Regions from separate parts of the Homo sapiens genome. Here region 2 is linked to region 1. The links come from fine-mapping of genetic effects on gene expression. A gene starts in region 1. The other region holds a variant in brackets. All regions are shown on one strand. Distances are from middle to middle.

What was found.
Region 2: its variant is fine-mapped to the expression of BDH2 in minor salivary gland (GTEx, PIP 0.94).

Annotation. Positions count from the first base shown.
Region 1 is chr4:103,095,500-103,103,834 of GRCh38, reverse strand. It overlaps BDH2 (3-hydroxybutyrate dehydrogenase 2), which reads left to right and starts at 4,001. Exons shown (of 10, transcript NM_020139.4): 1 at 4,001-4,052; 2 at 7,561-7,652. The coding sequence starts at 7,581.
Region 2 is chr4:103,215,348-103,223,682 of GRCh38, reverse strand. No RefSeq gene overlaps it. Among named protein-coding and RNA genes, the nearest start is that of CENPE, 21 kb to the right of the region's middle. The variant G/T (reference allele first, on the strand shown) is at 3,992.

The sequences.
Region 1 (8,335 bases):
CTACAGGAGAGAAGATCCTCTTTCAGGGCACGCCTATAAGCTCTTAGGTTACTTATGTGGAGCTTGAGCCATGAATTTGAATCCCTGAAGTCATCCTTTTTTTTTTTAAATAATTTTGCCCAACAATATTAGAAGCAACCAACCAACATTGGTATATTTCTTAGTTTTCCATAAATATTTGAAAGTATTATAGGGCCGGGCACAGTGGCTCACACCTGTAATCCCAGCACTTAGGGAGGCTGAGGCAGGCGGATCACAAGGTCAAGAGTTTGAGACCAGCGTGGCCAACATGGTGAAACCCCGTCTCTACTAGAATACAAAAATTAGCCAGGCATGGTGGTGTGTGCCTGTAATCCCAGCTATTCGAGAGGCTGAGGCAGAAGAATCGCTTGAACCCAGGAGGCAGAGGTTGCAGTGAGCCGAGATCATGCCACTGCACTCCAGCCTGGGCGACAGAGCAAGACTCTGTCTCGGAAAAAAAAAAAAAAGTATTATATATAGAGTCACTTAAGTTCCTCACCTCTAAGAAGTGGTTGATTAGGAGTATCCAATGCAGACATTTTGCATACCTCTATGAACAGTTCATTTCTTGGACAATCAGTGCTCTCTGTACTATTAAAAGGAGAGCCAGGCTGGGCGCAGTGACTCATCCCTGTAATCTCAACACTTTGGGAAACTGAGGCAGGAGGAGCACTTGAGACCAGGAGTTTGAGACCAGCCTAGGCTACATACTGAGACCTCATCTCTACCAAAAAAAAACAATTTGGAGGGCTGAGGCAGGAGGATGGCCTGAGCCCAGGTATTCAAGGCTACAGTCAGCTATGATGGTGCCACTGCACTCCAACCTGTTCAAGAGTGTGACCCCATCTCAAAGAGTAGAGCCTTTAGCATTTTCAAATCTAATCAGACTAAGAGCCAATTCCAGGAACCCCAAAACCAACTCAGGAAACTCATCCTTAAAATTTTGTTCCTCTAGAACCTCTCCTGTTACCAAAATCTGTCTTAGGATTTTCCAGAGAGACAGAACCAATAGAATATACACAGATGGTCACCAACTTGTCATGGTTCAACTTGAGATTTTTCAACTTTAGGGATGGTGTGAGAGCGATACGCATTCAGTGAAAACTTTACTTTGAATTCTGATCTCTTCATAAGATAGCAATACTCTACTGTGATCATGGGCAGTGGCGGCAAGACACAGCTCTCAGTCAGCCACGGGATCACGAGTAAACAACTGACACTGTTCAGTGTACTCTGTTCAATAAATCCCATGAGTCAGTCAACACCTTGTTATAAAACAGGCTTTGTATTAAATGATTTTATCCAACTGTAGGCTAACAAGTGTTCTGAGCACATTTAAGTAGGCTCGGCTAAGCTCTATGTTCAGTGAATTAGGTATATTAAATACATTTTCAACTGACAATGTTTTCAATTTACAATGGGCTTATTGGGATGTAACCCCACTGAAGCTTGAGGAAAAAAAAAAAAATATATATATATATATATGCAGAGAGAGAGAGAGAGGATGTTTATTAGGGGAATTGGTTTACACAATTAGGGAGGCTGAGAAGTCCCACCATAGGCTGTCTGCAAGCTGGAGAGCCAGGGAAACTAGGAGCGTGGCTCAGTCCAAGTCTGAAGGCCTGAGAATCTGGTCGGAGTTCAGGTATCCAAGGGCAGGAGAAGATGGATGTCCCAGTTCCGGAAGAGAGAGAATTCACCTTTTCTCTGCCTTTTTGTTTTATCTGGGCCCTCAGCCAATTGGATAGTGCCTGCCCACATTGGGTGAAGTAGATCCTTACCCAGTTCACTGATTCCAATGCCGATCTCTTCCAGAAACACTCAGAGATGTCCCAGAAATAATGCTTACCAGCTCTCTGGGGATCCGTAAATCCAGTCAAGTTGACACCTAAAATTAATTATCACAAACATTGTCTTGAGAGCCTGGCAGAATTATATTCAGGAAACTTATTAAGAAACTGCCATTCACTCAGCAAATATTTAATGAGCATCTACTATCTGCCAATTACTGTTTTAGGCACTGAAAGGCACTACCAATGTGGAACTCATATTGTAGATAAGAAAACAAGTAACTAATACTCTTTTAATACGAGCTAATCACAATGTAAAGGTGTAAAACATAGTCCCCACCCTTGAAGAAATTTAGTCTGCTGAGAATACTAATGGGTAAGCAAGTATTTGCAATACCATGTGACTTAGGCTGTTATCAAGTAAGCATTGTTGCTGAAGATTACAGAGGGATGCTGAAGAAAGCTACATCAAGAAGCATTGGAGTTGGCTTTGATTAGAGAACTCTCATAAAGTCTGTTCCAAAAGCCTCAAAAGTCAAAGGGCATTATTAGTAAAGCAGGAACAAAGCTAGATGTGATTACAGATTGTTAGAGCCAGCATTAGAAGTTGCTGAAACAATGAACAAGGAGGGACAATTTTACCATAGACCTCATATAGACACATGCAGAAACTAAGTCCAGTTTTTAAAAGAACATTAAAAAGCGCAACTTTTACCATCCATTATAATTAAATTTCTCCAACAATGTCTTCATCATAAGAATCACTAACATGTATTAAGCACCTGTGTGGCAAACATTGTGCTGATGGATTCACAGGCTTAGTCGTTCCTCCTCACCACATCCCTGAGGTAGGTGCTATTTTACCTTCATTTTACAGATGAGAAACATAAGAGGTTCAGAGATTTAAGTGATTTACTCACTTAGCTAGTGAGAGAGAGATATGGGACTTGCTCTAGTCTTACTGACGCCACAGTCTTTGTTCTTATCCCCTGTGACTGTTAGAAATCACTTAGCTCCATGTAACAAAAAACGTGAAAAACACTAAAGTTTATTGTCCTCACATAAGAAGTCCAGAGGAGTTGTTGCCTTGAGGCTGTCATCAGGGCCGCAGGCTCCTTCTCTTGCTGGTCCCTGTCGTTAATGTGTGCCTCTGGCCTCAGATGAACTCACTAAATGGCTGCTCTGTCCCACGGCATCCTATCTTCATTCCAGGCAAAAAGAAAGGGAGGAGCAAAAGCTAAAAGCCTTTCAGAAGGGCTTACTTTTCTATTTAAGAAGGAGGCCCTCCTCAGAAATTCCCACCTGCATTTCATTGGCAACATCTATGCTGCTTGGCCACCCCTAGCAGCAAACAAGGCTATGAAGTAGAGACTTTTGTTTTCCAGCTTTGACAAGTGAAAAAAGGGGAAAGTGAGTTGGATGGGTGCTGAGGAAACCAATTTATACAGTACATGTACAAGTAGCCTACACAATCACTCTGCTCACTGGCACTACAGATAAAGCACATGTTGCTATCCTAACCTAGAGGGCTCATGAGATCTAGTCCTTTCTTTTTGACCTTATATCTCTGTTCTCTTCAGCCAAACTGGGGTTTTTCGCTGTTAACATGTTCCCTTTTAAGCCTCCACCCTGTCATCCAAGTTTCACGTTCTCCCCAACCCCATTCCCAGTGTAGTAAAAGGCTCCTGGCATTCTGCCACTAAATGTGCATTAGTGTTAGAATATTCTGAGCATGAAAAAATAAAAATCACAACTGTATCTCAAACAAAAAGGATTTTTTTTTTTATTTCTCTCCCTTAAAACAATCCAGGCCAAGTGACAGGAAGGCTCCAGAATTTTCAGTGACCTGGGTTCCCTCTATTTTGTTGCTCTGCTATCTTCCACACGCAGTTTCCAGCTCAGCCAATCTCGTCTACCCTGGCACCGCATATAGTAGGCATAAACAAAACAGAGAAGTGGAGAGACTGAAGTGAAGGAAATGATTTCCGCATCCTAAGTAAGCTCTAAGGTGCTTTTCCACTTTTCACCTTCCACTTGGAATTCATAGTTCTACCTGAATTCCACTAGATGGCAGCACATACATTTATAAAGTGTATGGATGGAGCCACTAAACTCTGAAAGCAGGGAAACTACAAATCCCAGCATGCATTATTAAGCGCTTGACTTGCTTCCAGACAAAGGTTGTCTCAAGTTTGTTGCTCAAACCGAGTTCTGGAGAACGCCATCAGCTCGCTGCTTAAAGTAAGATTTCCTAATACTTTTGAAATGAAACTTTAGAACGGAAAGAGGGGAGGTTTAATTTTTAGATGTTGTTTTTTTCTGCACGTTGCCTGTTTCAAAATTAATCTGAGCAGTTAGATCAGTGTAAAGATGGGTTTTTAAAGAGCCTGAAACTCTGTGGTATGTATGTTTTATAAAGTAGCCCAAGAAAAAAGGATTCTTACGGTATCCTAAGTGAAGAGTTTTCTTCCTGGCTCTTGAAAACAATGGCTTCCTGAATATGCTGTTTGTGTCTCTGCTAATCAAAAATCAACATTTTGATTCTAACTTTTGGACTAAGGAAGCCAACATGTATGGTTTTCACATTGGATATATTGAGAGGTGCCTTGTTTTACCATTTCAGGCCGTGTTTGCTCTCATTTTCTCAAAGAAATCTGTTTTAGTTTGAGATTACAGTTTATCAAATGTTAAGGCTTTGACCCCAAAATCTGGTCCCAGAAAGACAGGAAGGCCAGCTAAGAGGAGGTTTTCAGAGTGCATAGAAAGGCTGCTCTGTGCTTCGGCATTTGTTCTGGAAGTGCTTCTTCGGTTGGCAAAGATTCCTAGCAAAACCTTTGACTGGAGGCTTTACAGGGCCATACACCCAATATCACTAATGACAGTGTTGTAAAATAGCTTTTGTGCACCATGCTTAGGATTCAAGGAGGATAAAGTATATCTTTCTAAAGTTATACTTTAGAAACTGTCATTCCATGTTGAAATGATAAACATTCCATGTTTATCTTTTGTGTAAGAAGTAAAAAAGCAAAAATTCATTGCATCAAAGTAGGTCAGGCACTGTTAAAGCCAAGCTTCCCCATCGCCTAAAAAATGTGGACAAACTCAGAGGAAGTCAGTGATTATAAGCTGATCCCTGGAGCCAGTTCTTACATAATTGTGTTAGTCTGCTCCTCCAAGAAGCAGACTCCAAGATAGAATTAAATATGCATGGATTTTATTAGGGGAAATGCTGTTGTGAGAGAGAATGAGGAGAGAACTAGGTAAGGCTGTGAGAGCCATCAGACCTCGATGCAAGTCCACCCGCGAGGGAGGAAAAGAAGGAAACCAGGTTGAGTGGAAGCATCCCAGACAGCTGTGCAGTCTAAGAGAACTTCAGCAAGGTAATAAGGAGCTTCTCTAGCCAGTCATCCGTTGGGGAGGAGGTCTATGTCTCCCAGAAATGAGTCTGCCTTAGTAAGCATGCATGCTCAGGCACTGGCTTGTAACGGCCCCGAGAAGGTGGCCTCAGCACAAACCCAGAGAGGCAGCAGCAGCTGCGCCTCATTGTCCATTACTTCCTGGGGTCAGCGGTCTGCGAGGCACAGGCTCCTGGTGCCACAGTGGGGATTTAGAGAGGCCCGCAGGGCTTTGAGTACCATGAGACAATGCCATGAGATCTTCCCTTGGACCTGCAACAAGAAGGCCTAGGTTTGAATTCATAGCTGCAAAACACTGGGCAAATAACATTTCTTTGAAATTAGCCACGTTGGTGATCAGGTCCTACCTATCTCATCTCTGAAACACTTCTCCAATCCACCTATCTCTCCATCCCTGCTATTTTCTCCAGCCCTGCTATTTCACCAGCGCCCCCACTAGATAACCCTAGCAGCCTCCTAATGGCACCCCATGCTCCTGCCCAGGTATGTTCTCCACAGCAGTCCTTCCAAAATACGAATCTGATCATTTCACACCCTTTCCATAAATCCTTCAGTGGCTGTTGCCTATAGGAGTAACTTGCCCTTCACCATGTGGACCTTGGACCAAGTGTGGAGGTTTGAAATGGAAGAGCATATTGGGTATAAAAAAAAAAAAGTTTGGCTAAAGAGAGAACTGAAATAAGTTCAAAGAGAAAGGACTAGGTAATATAAGCCCTTTAGGCAAGGCTATCAACCTGTACAAAATCAGGCAGATAATGGAACAGAGTGATTGTGTAGGCTAGTTTGCATGTACTGTAAGTTGGTTCATCAACACCATCCAACTCACTTTCTCCTATTCTTCACTTTATCAAAGCTGGAAACAAAAGTCTCAACTTCCAACCTCTTTGCAGCTAGGAGTGGCCAAGTAGCATAGATCTGGTGAATGAACTGCAGGTGGGAATTTCTGAGAAGGTTTCCTTCTTAAATAGAAAGGTGAGACCTCTCTGAAAGCCTTTTGGCTTTTGCTCCTCCCTTTCTTTTTGCCTGAAATGTGGATATGATGCCTTGGACAAAGCAGCCACTTTGTGAGTTCGTATGAGGTCAGAGGCACACATTAATGACAGAGCCCAGCAAGACTTGGAGCCTGTGTCCTTGAAGACAGCCTCATTTGATGGTCATTTGGCTCTTCTCCACCCCCAGCCTCACTACTAGCTCTTTCTCTCACTTTGTGATCTATAATCCAAGCACTGGTGAAATATCTCATGCACATGAGCCCCGGTGTCAGTGTTTCTCAATCATTTAGAAATTACTGATTATGCCTGTTAATGTGTTACTACTGCATGCTTAAACTTTATAAGAGGATCGGCAGCATTGTGGGCTGGACTGTTCACATAGCAAGAGTCTGGAAGTCTAAGTTTAGTTCTGGCTTTCCCATTGACTGGCTCTATGACATTGGGCATGTTTCAGCAGTTTCCTCATCTGTAAAATGGGAGTATTGGATGTGATTTGATTTTTCCATCCTTTTTTTTTTCGATGAATATCTGAGACCAACTATGAAATCTTTTCAAGAGAAAAAAAATCATAAGCAATTGATAGTGCAAACCTCAACAAAAGTTTATGGAAGAGAAATCAAGAAGCAGCCCTGAGTAGTAAGGACACAAATAATGTCATAGCAATGTGTGCAGGGGTCATGGAGAGAGTGATGGTGGTAGTGAGGAAACTCAGCACCAGAGGCTGTCCTCTCCAGGTACTGAAGGAAGGATAAGGTAGGTTAAAGTGCAATATCTGGGCTGGGCACAGTGGCTCAGGCCTGTAATCTCAGCACTTTGGAAGGCTGAGGCAGGTGGATTGCCTGAGGTCAGGAGTTTGAGACCAGTCTGGCCAACATGGTGAAAGCCCGTCTCTACAAAAAATACAGAAATTGGCTGGGCGTGGTGGCAGGCACCTGTAATCCCAGCTACTCAGGAGGCTGCGGCAGGAGAATTGCTTGAACCTAAAAGGCGGAGGTTGCAGTGAGCCGAGATCACTCCATTACACTCCAGCCTGGGTGACAAGAGTGAAACTCCATCTCATAAAAAAAAAAAAAAAAAAAAAAAATGGCCAATGTCTGTCACCAGTCATTACTTCAGTGGGTTATGGTAAATGTGTTTGATATACAAAGCTAGGTATGCAGAGTAAGCATTCTAGGAGAATTCAGATGATGGGACTACTTGCACAGAGGTGCTGTCTTCAAGTTCCTGAAGGAGCTCACTAAATTATTCTTAAAAGAGCACACTGAACTATTCATTCTAGATGTTACTGCCTGCTCAAGATCATGTTCTACAGTATAACCCATTAAACACACATGTCTTTAGATTAAACCACAGGTTCCATTATGGGTCGACTTGATGGGAAAGTCATCATCCTGACGGCCGCTGCTCAGGGGATTGGCCAAGCAGCTGCCTTAGTAAGTTATAAGTTACTATCTTTGTTGTTTGCCTACTAACTCTTGACATATTGAATTATGTGGACTGATGCCATGGTTGTTTACTTCTGCTCTGCTTTTTTATTTTTTTACTTTTGTGCTTCTGTTGTCTTAAGTTATAAAAATAAACAAATAAATAAATAGGTCCCTACTCCTGACCCCAGGCAGATGAAGGAATGAATACCTCATATTTAGTACATGACATCACTGATAACCATTGACTCTGAGAAACTTCTCTACTTCAGTTTCTCTGCATCATGATATATTCGCTACAGAGGGCAAACAGGGTTACACAGCTTTCTGAAATTGTGTCAGTTTAGATATATGACTCCAGAGTTATAAGACAGGTTACCTTGTTCTCCTGATTTATATCAATTTCTGTTACATTATGTACCCCACTTAAGCTAATATCGGCACCTTAAGTATAACAGTACCTTAAGTATAATGGCAGGGTATGGTTTGACATTTATGAAAGCACTAGCATACTCTTAGTAGGAAAAGTGTTGAAACAACCAATTTTTCTCTTATTATTTGGAGTTTAGTAACTCAAACTCAGAAATGATATATAGTCTCATTACAGAAGAGCAGTATTTTGAGAGTATTGAAAACAGCTGTCATTTTTTTAAGAACGTTATTTTGTTTGATATTACTTAAAGGGACTAAGT
Region 2 (8,335 bases), 120 kb before region 1:
TTCTTTGGAGGCAGAAATTGGGCATAAGACAATATGTGGGGTGGTCTCCTCCCTTATGTTGAGATTGCTTTTGGCATCTTTATCATGAAATATTTGCCAGTTCCTGTGTCCAGAATCGTATTGTCCAGGTTGTCTTCCAAGGTTTCTATATTTCTGGGTTTTACATTTAGGCCTTTGATCCATCTTGAGTTAATTTTTGTATATGGTGTAAGGAAGGGGTCCAGTTTCAATCTTCTGCATGTGGCTAGCCAGTTATCCCAGCACCATTTATTGAACAGAGATTCCTTTCCACACTGCTTGTTTCTGCTGACTTTGTCAAAGATCAGATGGTTGTAGGTGTTTGACCTTATTTTTGGATTCTCTATTCTGTTCTATAGCTCTATGTGTATGTTTTTGTACCAGTACCATGCTGTTTTGATTACTCTAGCCCTGTAGTATAGTTTGAAATCTGGTAGCATGAAGCATTCAGTTTTGCTCTTTTTGCTTAGGATTGTCTTGGCTATTTGGGCTCCTTTTTGGTTCCATATGAATTTTAAAATAATTTTTTCTAGTTCTATGAAGAATGTGTTTAAAAGTTTGGTACAATTAACATTGAATCTGTAAATTGGGTGGTATGGTCATTTTAATTATACTGATTCTTCTGATTTATGAACATGGAATGTTTTTTCATTTGTTTGTGTCATCTCTGATTTCTTTCAGAATTGTTTTGTACTTCTCATTGCAGACATCTTTCACCTTTCGGGATAGCTGTATTCCCAGGTTATTTATTCCTTTTGTGGCTATTGTGAATGGGATTGTGTTCCTGACTTGGCTCTTCACTTGGCTGCTGCTGATGTATAGGACTGTTAGTGATTTTGGTACATTGATTTTGTATCCTGAAACTTTGCTGAAGTTGTTTATTATCTTAATAAGCTTTTGGGCCAAGACTATTGGGTTTTCTAGGTATAAAATCATGTAGTCTGCAAACAATGGTAATTTGACTTCCTCTCTTCCTATATGGATGTCCTTTATTTCTTTCTCTTGCTGATTGTTCTGGCCAGGACTTCCAATACTATGTTAAATAGGAAAAGTAAGAGAGCATCCTTGTCTAGTGCAGGTTTTCAAAGGGAATGCTTCCAGCTTTTGCTCATTCACTATGATTTTGGCTGTGGGTTTGTCATAAATGGCTTTTATTATGTTGAGGTCTGTTCCTCCACTGCCTAATTTATTGAGGGTTTTTAACATGAAGAGATATTGAATTTTATAGAAAGCCTTTTCTGCATCTATTGAGATAATCATTTGATTTTTGTCTTTAGTTCTGTTTATGTGATGAACCACGTTTGGTGATTTGCATATGTTGAACCAACATTGCATCCCAGGGATAGAGCCTACTTGGACATGGTGAATTAGCTTTTTGATGTGCTTCTGCATTTGATTTGCCAGTATTTTTTTGACAAACAATATTTGTCAAGGATATTGGTCTGAAGTTTTATTTTTTGTTGTGTCTTTGACAGGTTTTGGTATCAGGATGATGCTGGCCTCATAGAATGAATTGAGGAGTCCCTCCCCTCAATTTTTTGGAATAATTTCAGTAGGAACGGTACCAGCTCTTCTTTGTACATCTGGTAGAATTTGGCTGTGAATTCATCTGGTCCTGGGTTTTTTATGGTTGGTAGCCTATTTATTACTGATTCAATTTGAATATCATCATTGGTCTGTTCAGGGTTTTAATTTCTTCTAGTTCAGTCTTGAGAGAGTGTATGTGCCCAGGAATTTATCCTTCTCCTCTGGGTTTTCTAGTTTGTGTGCATAAACGTGTTTGTAGCAGTCTCTGATGGTCATTTGTATTTATGTGGAGTCAGTGTTAATATTCCCTTTGTCATTTCCAATTGTGTTTATCTGGATCCTCTCTCTTTTCTTCTTTATTAGTCTTATTACAATAATAAGATAAATAGTGGCCTATTTATCTTTTTTCTTTTTTCCAAAAAACCAACTCCTGGATTTGTTGATCTTTTGAATGGTTTTCTGCTCAGTTTCCAATTTTGGTTATTTCTTGCCTTCAATTGGTTATTTCAGCTCCAATTTTGGTTATTTCTTGCCTTCTGCTAGCTTTGTAGTTGGTTTGCTCTTGCTTTGCTAGTTCTTTTCAATGTGATGTTAGGTTGTTAATTTGCTATCTTTCTTACTTTCTGTTGTGGGCATTTAGTGCAATAAATTTCCCTCTTAACATTACCTTAGCTGTGTCCTAGAGATTCTGGTATGTTGTATTGTGGGTCTTATTAGTTTCAAATAACTTTTTGATTTCTGTTTTAATTTCATGATTAACCCAAAAGTCATTCAGGAGCAGGTTATTCAATTTCCATGTAATTTTGTGGTTTTGAGTAATTTTCTTACTCTGGATTTCTAATCTTAATGTACTGCAGTCCAACTGAGTGGTTGTTATGATTTCAGTCCATTTGTATTTGCTGAGAATTCTTTTATGTCTGTTTATGTAGTTGATTTTAGTGTATGTGCCATGTAGCAATAAGAAGGTATATTCTGTTGTTTTGGGGTGGAGAGTTCTGTAGGTGTCTATCAGGTCCATTGATCCAGTGCTGAGTTTAGTTCTTGAAAATCTTCGTTAAATTTCTGCCTCAATGATTGGTCTAATACTGTCAGTGGAGTGCTGAAGTCTTCCGCTTTTATTGTGTGCAAGACTATGTCTTTTTGGAGGTCTCTAAGAACTTGCTGTATGAATCTTGGTGCTCCTGTGTTGGGAACACAGGATATATTTTTAGGATAGTTAGGTATTCTTGTTGAACTTAACTCTTTACCATTATATTAATATAATGCCCTTCTTTGTCAATGTTTATCTTTAATGGTTTAAAGTCTGTTTTGTCTAAAATCAGGATTGCAGCCCCTGCTTTTTTCAGACTTCCATTTGCTCAGTAGATTTTCCTTCATCCCTTTATTTTGAGCCTATGGGTGTAACTGCATGTGAGATGGATCTCTTGAAGATAGCATACTATCAGGTCTCGCTTTTTTATCCACATTGCTATTTTTTGCCTTTTAAATGGGGCATTTAGCCCATTTACATTCAAGGTTAGTATTAATATGTATAGATTTGATATTGTAATTGTGTTGTTAGCTGGTTATTATGCTGGTTTGTTTGTGTGGTTGCTTTATAGTGTCACTGGTCTGTGTACTTAAGTGTGTTTTTGTATTGGCTAGTAACAATACAAAACTCTATGGTAATGAACTCCCTCAGCACTTGCTCATCTGAAAAGGATCTTATTTCTCCTTCGCCGAGAAAGCTTAGTTTGGCTGAATATGACATTCTTGGTTGAACATTTTTTTCTTTAAGAATGTTGAATATAGGCCCCCAATCTCTTCTGTCTTGTAAGGTTTCCACTGAGAGGTCAACTGTTAGTCTGATGTGGTTTCCTTTGTAGGTGAACTGCCCTTTCTCTGTAGCTGCCTTTAACATTCTTTCACTTCAACTTTGAAAAATCTGATGATTATGTGTCTTGGGGATGACCTTCTGGTGTAGAATCCTGCAGGGGTTCTCTGTGTTTCCTGAATTTTATTTTTGGCCCCTTTAGTGAGGTTGGGGAAGTTTACATGGATGATATCCTGAAATATATTTTCCAAGTTGTTTGCTGTCTCATCATCCCTGTCAAGGATACCAGTGATTTGTAGATTTGGCCTCTTTATATAATCCCACATTTCTGAAAGTTTTTGTTCATTCCTCTTCATTCTTGTTTATTTTCATCTCACTATCTTACTTCAGAGAGCTAGTCTTCAAGTTCCAGGATCCTGTTCTCAGCTTCATCTATTCTGCTGTTAATACTTGTGATTGCATTATGAAATTATTGTAGTGTCTCTTTCAGCTCTATCAGACCAGTTAGATACTTTCTTATACTGGCTATTTCATCTGTCAGCACAGGTATCATTTTATGGTGATTCTTAGTTTCCTTGGATTGGCTTTTGCTGTTCTCCTGAATTTCAATGATCTTCATTCCTATCCATCTAT[G/T]TCTGCCATTTCAGCCAATGAGTTGGTTAAGAACCCTTCTTTGAGAACTAGTGCAGTCATTTGGAGGACATAAGACACTGGCCTTTTGAGTTACCAGAGTTCTTGTGTTGGTTCCTTCTCATCTCTGCATGTGGGTGTTCCTTTAACTGCAGTGAAGATTGAGTAAAATCAATAGACTTCTTGACTTCTTTTCTGGATGTTTTCACAGGACCAAGGCTTTGTGCAGGGTAATTATTTGTAGCTTCTTGTCTTTGGTTTCACAAAGTTGGTGAGATACTTTAGGTGTTGAAGTTTTGGGATGTGATCCAGTGGGTGGCACTTAGGCATAATGGTCAGTAAGAGTCTCTTGCTCAGTCTTGTGGCTCTCCTATATTTCCTCACAGCTGTAGCCATGCTGCCTCTCTATGCTCTGAAAGTGTGAGCTCCTCTCCCACTTCAGTGCTGGCTGTAGATCACAGCTTGGCATTCCCAGGCTGCCCAACACAGTTCTGGGGTAATCTCAAGGTTAATGTTTCCTCCCCAACTTGGAGGCAGCAGAGGACAGGACCTTCACAGTGGTTGTGATGAGGGTCTTTTACTTGTCTCCTGGGGGCTTTGCTCTAGAGAGATACAGGTCAGCTATCTCTCAGTGTAATCAGCCCAAGTTAGGGGTCTGTGCTGTGGACCCAAGCTGGGGGTTCCCTGCTTAGTGATGAGCAGTGGGGTGGGTGGGACTCATGCAAGATGAACTGGCCTCCTCTCCTTGGGTCAACTGCTGCTTGTTGAAGTATGGATAAGGTACTTAGGGCTTTTGCTCCTTTGTTAGTCCAAGGGTAGAAGGGGTAGTACCACTGCAGAGGCCATGGCAGGGGGACTTTGGGTTGCCTCTGAGGGCCCCACCTCCAAGAAATGCAGAGCTGCTGTTACTGGGAGTGTTCAGCCAGTGGGGTGGGACAGCAGCACTAGTGGTATGAGCTTAGAACTCTGTTGTTGGGGAGTAGGGGGTCAAGGGCTCACTGGGAGGAGATACTGGTCTCCCCATATGGTGGATGTGGTGTTCTGTAACCTGAGGTATAGTCCTCAGGCTCTTTGTCTCTTCCCCAGACCAAGGGCAGCAGGGATAGAACTGCTGCTTTGGCAGTGGCAGAATGGCTGTGGGATGCCTCTGGAAGCCTCTTCACAAGAAAACTCCAAGCCACTACTAGTGGGTATACTCCACCATGGGTGGGATGTTTCTGCAGTTATGAGGTGGAGGCCCTGACTGGTGAAGAGTGTAGGGGGAAGATTCCTAGGGCAGAGGGGCTGGACTCCTCTCCATATGGTGGCTGTGGTGTGCTGGAGGTACCAGGGAGTGAGTGACTAGGCCTTTATTCTTTCCCCAGCCTGTAGGCTATTAGGGCAGTACCACTGCAACTGCAGTGGCAGAGGGGCTGTGGGTTGACTTTAGGATTTTCTCCTTACAGAAATGCTGGGCTGCCTCTGATTGAAGTGGTCAGGCAATGGCAGGGTGGCTGTGGTGGTGTCTCAGGTCAAGCAGCTCTGCCCAGTGAAGAGAAGTAAGCACCAGGACATGTACGGAAAACAGTCTGGCCATTTTCCCATATGGCTGCTGCAGTATGCTGGGGTTCCGCTCCAGTCCCTAGTCACCTTGGATTTTCTATTATTACCTGAAGGTATCAACAGTGAAGTCTGCAAAGCAGCAAAGATGTCAGCCTGCCCCTTTCTCTGGAAGCTCCATCCCAGGGAGGTATGGATGGGTTTCCAGCCCAAACACACTGGCAGAGATGGCAGGAGACCCTGGTCAGGAGGTCCCACCCAGTGAGGAAGAACAGGATCAGGGACCTACTGCATAAAAGCAGCCTGGCCACTTTTTCATAGGGCAGCTGTGCTGTACTAGGGGTCTGCTTCAGCCCCCAGTCACTTTGAGCTCTCCAAAGCCTGAAGGCAACAATGGCTAAGGCTGCAAAACAGCAAAGATTGTGGCCTGCCCCTCCCTCTGGAAGCTCCATTCCAGGGAGGTTTGGAACTGATGTCTCCTGGAAAACACTGGTGGGGGTGGTTGCAGACCTCAGTCAATAGATTCTGGCCAGTGAAGAGAAATAGGATCCAAGCCAGTGGGTCTTGTCCTGCCAAGTGCTGTAGAAGCAGGGCCTGCAAACTGTCACTTCTCAGGCCCCTGGATTCATCCCTTTTCTTATGGGTATGTATAGGGGTCTAACCTTCTGATTTGCTGGACTTGCAACCACTTTTGCTTGGATGCCCAGGTATCTAAGTCTCCCCAGGTTCCATATGTACCTGAGCAGCTGCTCTGCCAAGACTTCACGTAGCTCTGTGTGTCAGACTGAAGTCCCTGGTGGAGAGGTTCACAAGGAGCTCTCTTGACCCAAGGGTTGCAAAGATCCATGGGAGAAGCATGGGTCCCTGGGGTCACTCACTCACTCACCACTTCCCTGAAAGAGGGAGGCTGCCCTGGCTCCCTGTCACTCTCAGGTGGGCAGTAATCCTGCCTTGCTTCTCTCTGTTCCCAATGGGTTTAGCTGTTTTCCTGATGAGTCCCAATGTGTGTACCTGGATGTTTCAATTGAAGGTGCTGTATTTACTTGCCCCTTCTATTTCTCTTTCTGAGAGCAGAGCACACTAGCTGCTTCTAGTTGGCAATCCTGGCCAGCCTCCCTCAATCTTCTTTTTAAGTTAGTAAAATTCATCAACATATTTTGCCACTTCCTGTGTTTATCATTTTTTTTAATTTCGTTCCTCCTCTCTTTACGGAATATGCTTTAGTTAAGTTCTCTTATTTCTATGTCTGTGAACGTCTATATTTTACCCTCACTCTTGTGATAGGTTAGCTAGATATAAAATTCTAGTCGACAGTAATTTTACCGCAGCAATTTGAAGATAATTAACAAATATCTTCTGGCACATACTATTAGTAGTGAGAAGTCTGCTCACATTCTCATTGTCAGGCCTTTTAGGTAATCTTTTCTCTTTTTCTTTCTGGAAGATTTTAAGACTTTTCTCTTTATTCTTCATGTTCTCTAGTTTCACAAATTTGTGACTAGGTATGGAGTTACCTTTAACGGTCCTACATGCTTTTTGGGGTACACTTTCAATCTAAGAAGTCACATCTTTCTCAAACTTTGAAAATTCCTCAGAAATGATCTCTTTGAATATTGCTTCTTTATTTCCTTTATTTGCATCTCCTGGAACTTGTAGGGTTTCATAGAGTGTCTATAAGTATGTATGTTGCAGTCTTTGCAGCTATCCTTCATTTCTTTTAATGAATCCTTCATATTTTTAAATCACTTTTTGTTTATCTCAGCTACATTCTGAGCCCATTTCTAAATATTATCTTCCAATTTACTAATTTTCTATTTGATTTTGACCTGTCTAGAGTTTATTCTATGTGCTAATAATATCTTTTTTTCTTTCTTTCTACTGATTTTTCATATTCCCGTATAATTTTCCATACATGACATTACTGCAGGACAGTTCCATGGGTGGTGTTGAACCAACCCAGTTCTCCCCCATTTCTTACTTGTAGTTCTGCAGAATTAACTAGAATGTGCTGGACATGCAACATCCTGAGATAAGGAGGAGGTGGCCAGAAGAGCACAGACTCTGTCCCTGTTGCCCCTAGAAACAGTATATCCTTCATCGCTTCAGCCAGCGTGTCTTATTGTTCCCACGGTGAAAAATTGAGGGTGGGCTGGTTTCCAGGGTCCCTCAGCTGTGGTACAAGGGACCCTGGAAAGCAGCCCACCCTGGGTTTTTTACCCTGGGAGCAATAAGGCACTCTCAGAGGAGACTCCATCTGCTCTGAGCAGATTTCCTGAGCCCCCGGGGACTGGCTCATCATAACTCGTAGGCTTCTGTTGTCCCTTTCTGCCCATCTATAAGTAACAAAACTATGCAATTTGTGTGTGAGAGAGTTTTTTTATCTCACAAGACTCAGGTACATAGTAAAAGTGCAGCCCAGGATTCTGAAGTGGTAAGCAGTGCACAGTGAACCTGCTTCACAAGCACCAGTTCCTCATTCTACATCACCATCACCATTTTCACTACATTTCCAGTATGTAGGACATCCATCAGTAGACATTATAGTTTGTTTTCCCAATCTAAAGATTTTTTACATTTTTAATTATTGTAGTTACATAGTAGGTGTATATATTTATGGGATAAGTGAGATGTTCTGATACAGGCATGCAATGTAAAATAAGTACATCAAGGAGAATGGGGTATCCATCCCCTCAAGCATTTATTCTTTGAGTTACAAACAATCTAATTATACTGTTTAAGTAATTTTAAAATGTACAATTAAGTAATTATTGACTATAGTCACCCTGTTATACTATCAAATAGAGGTAT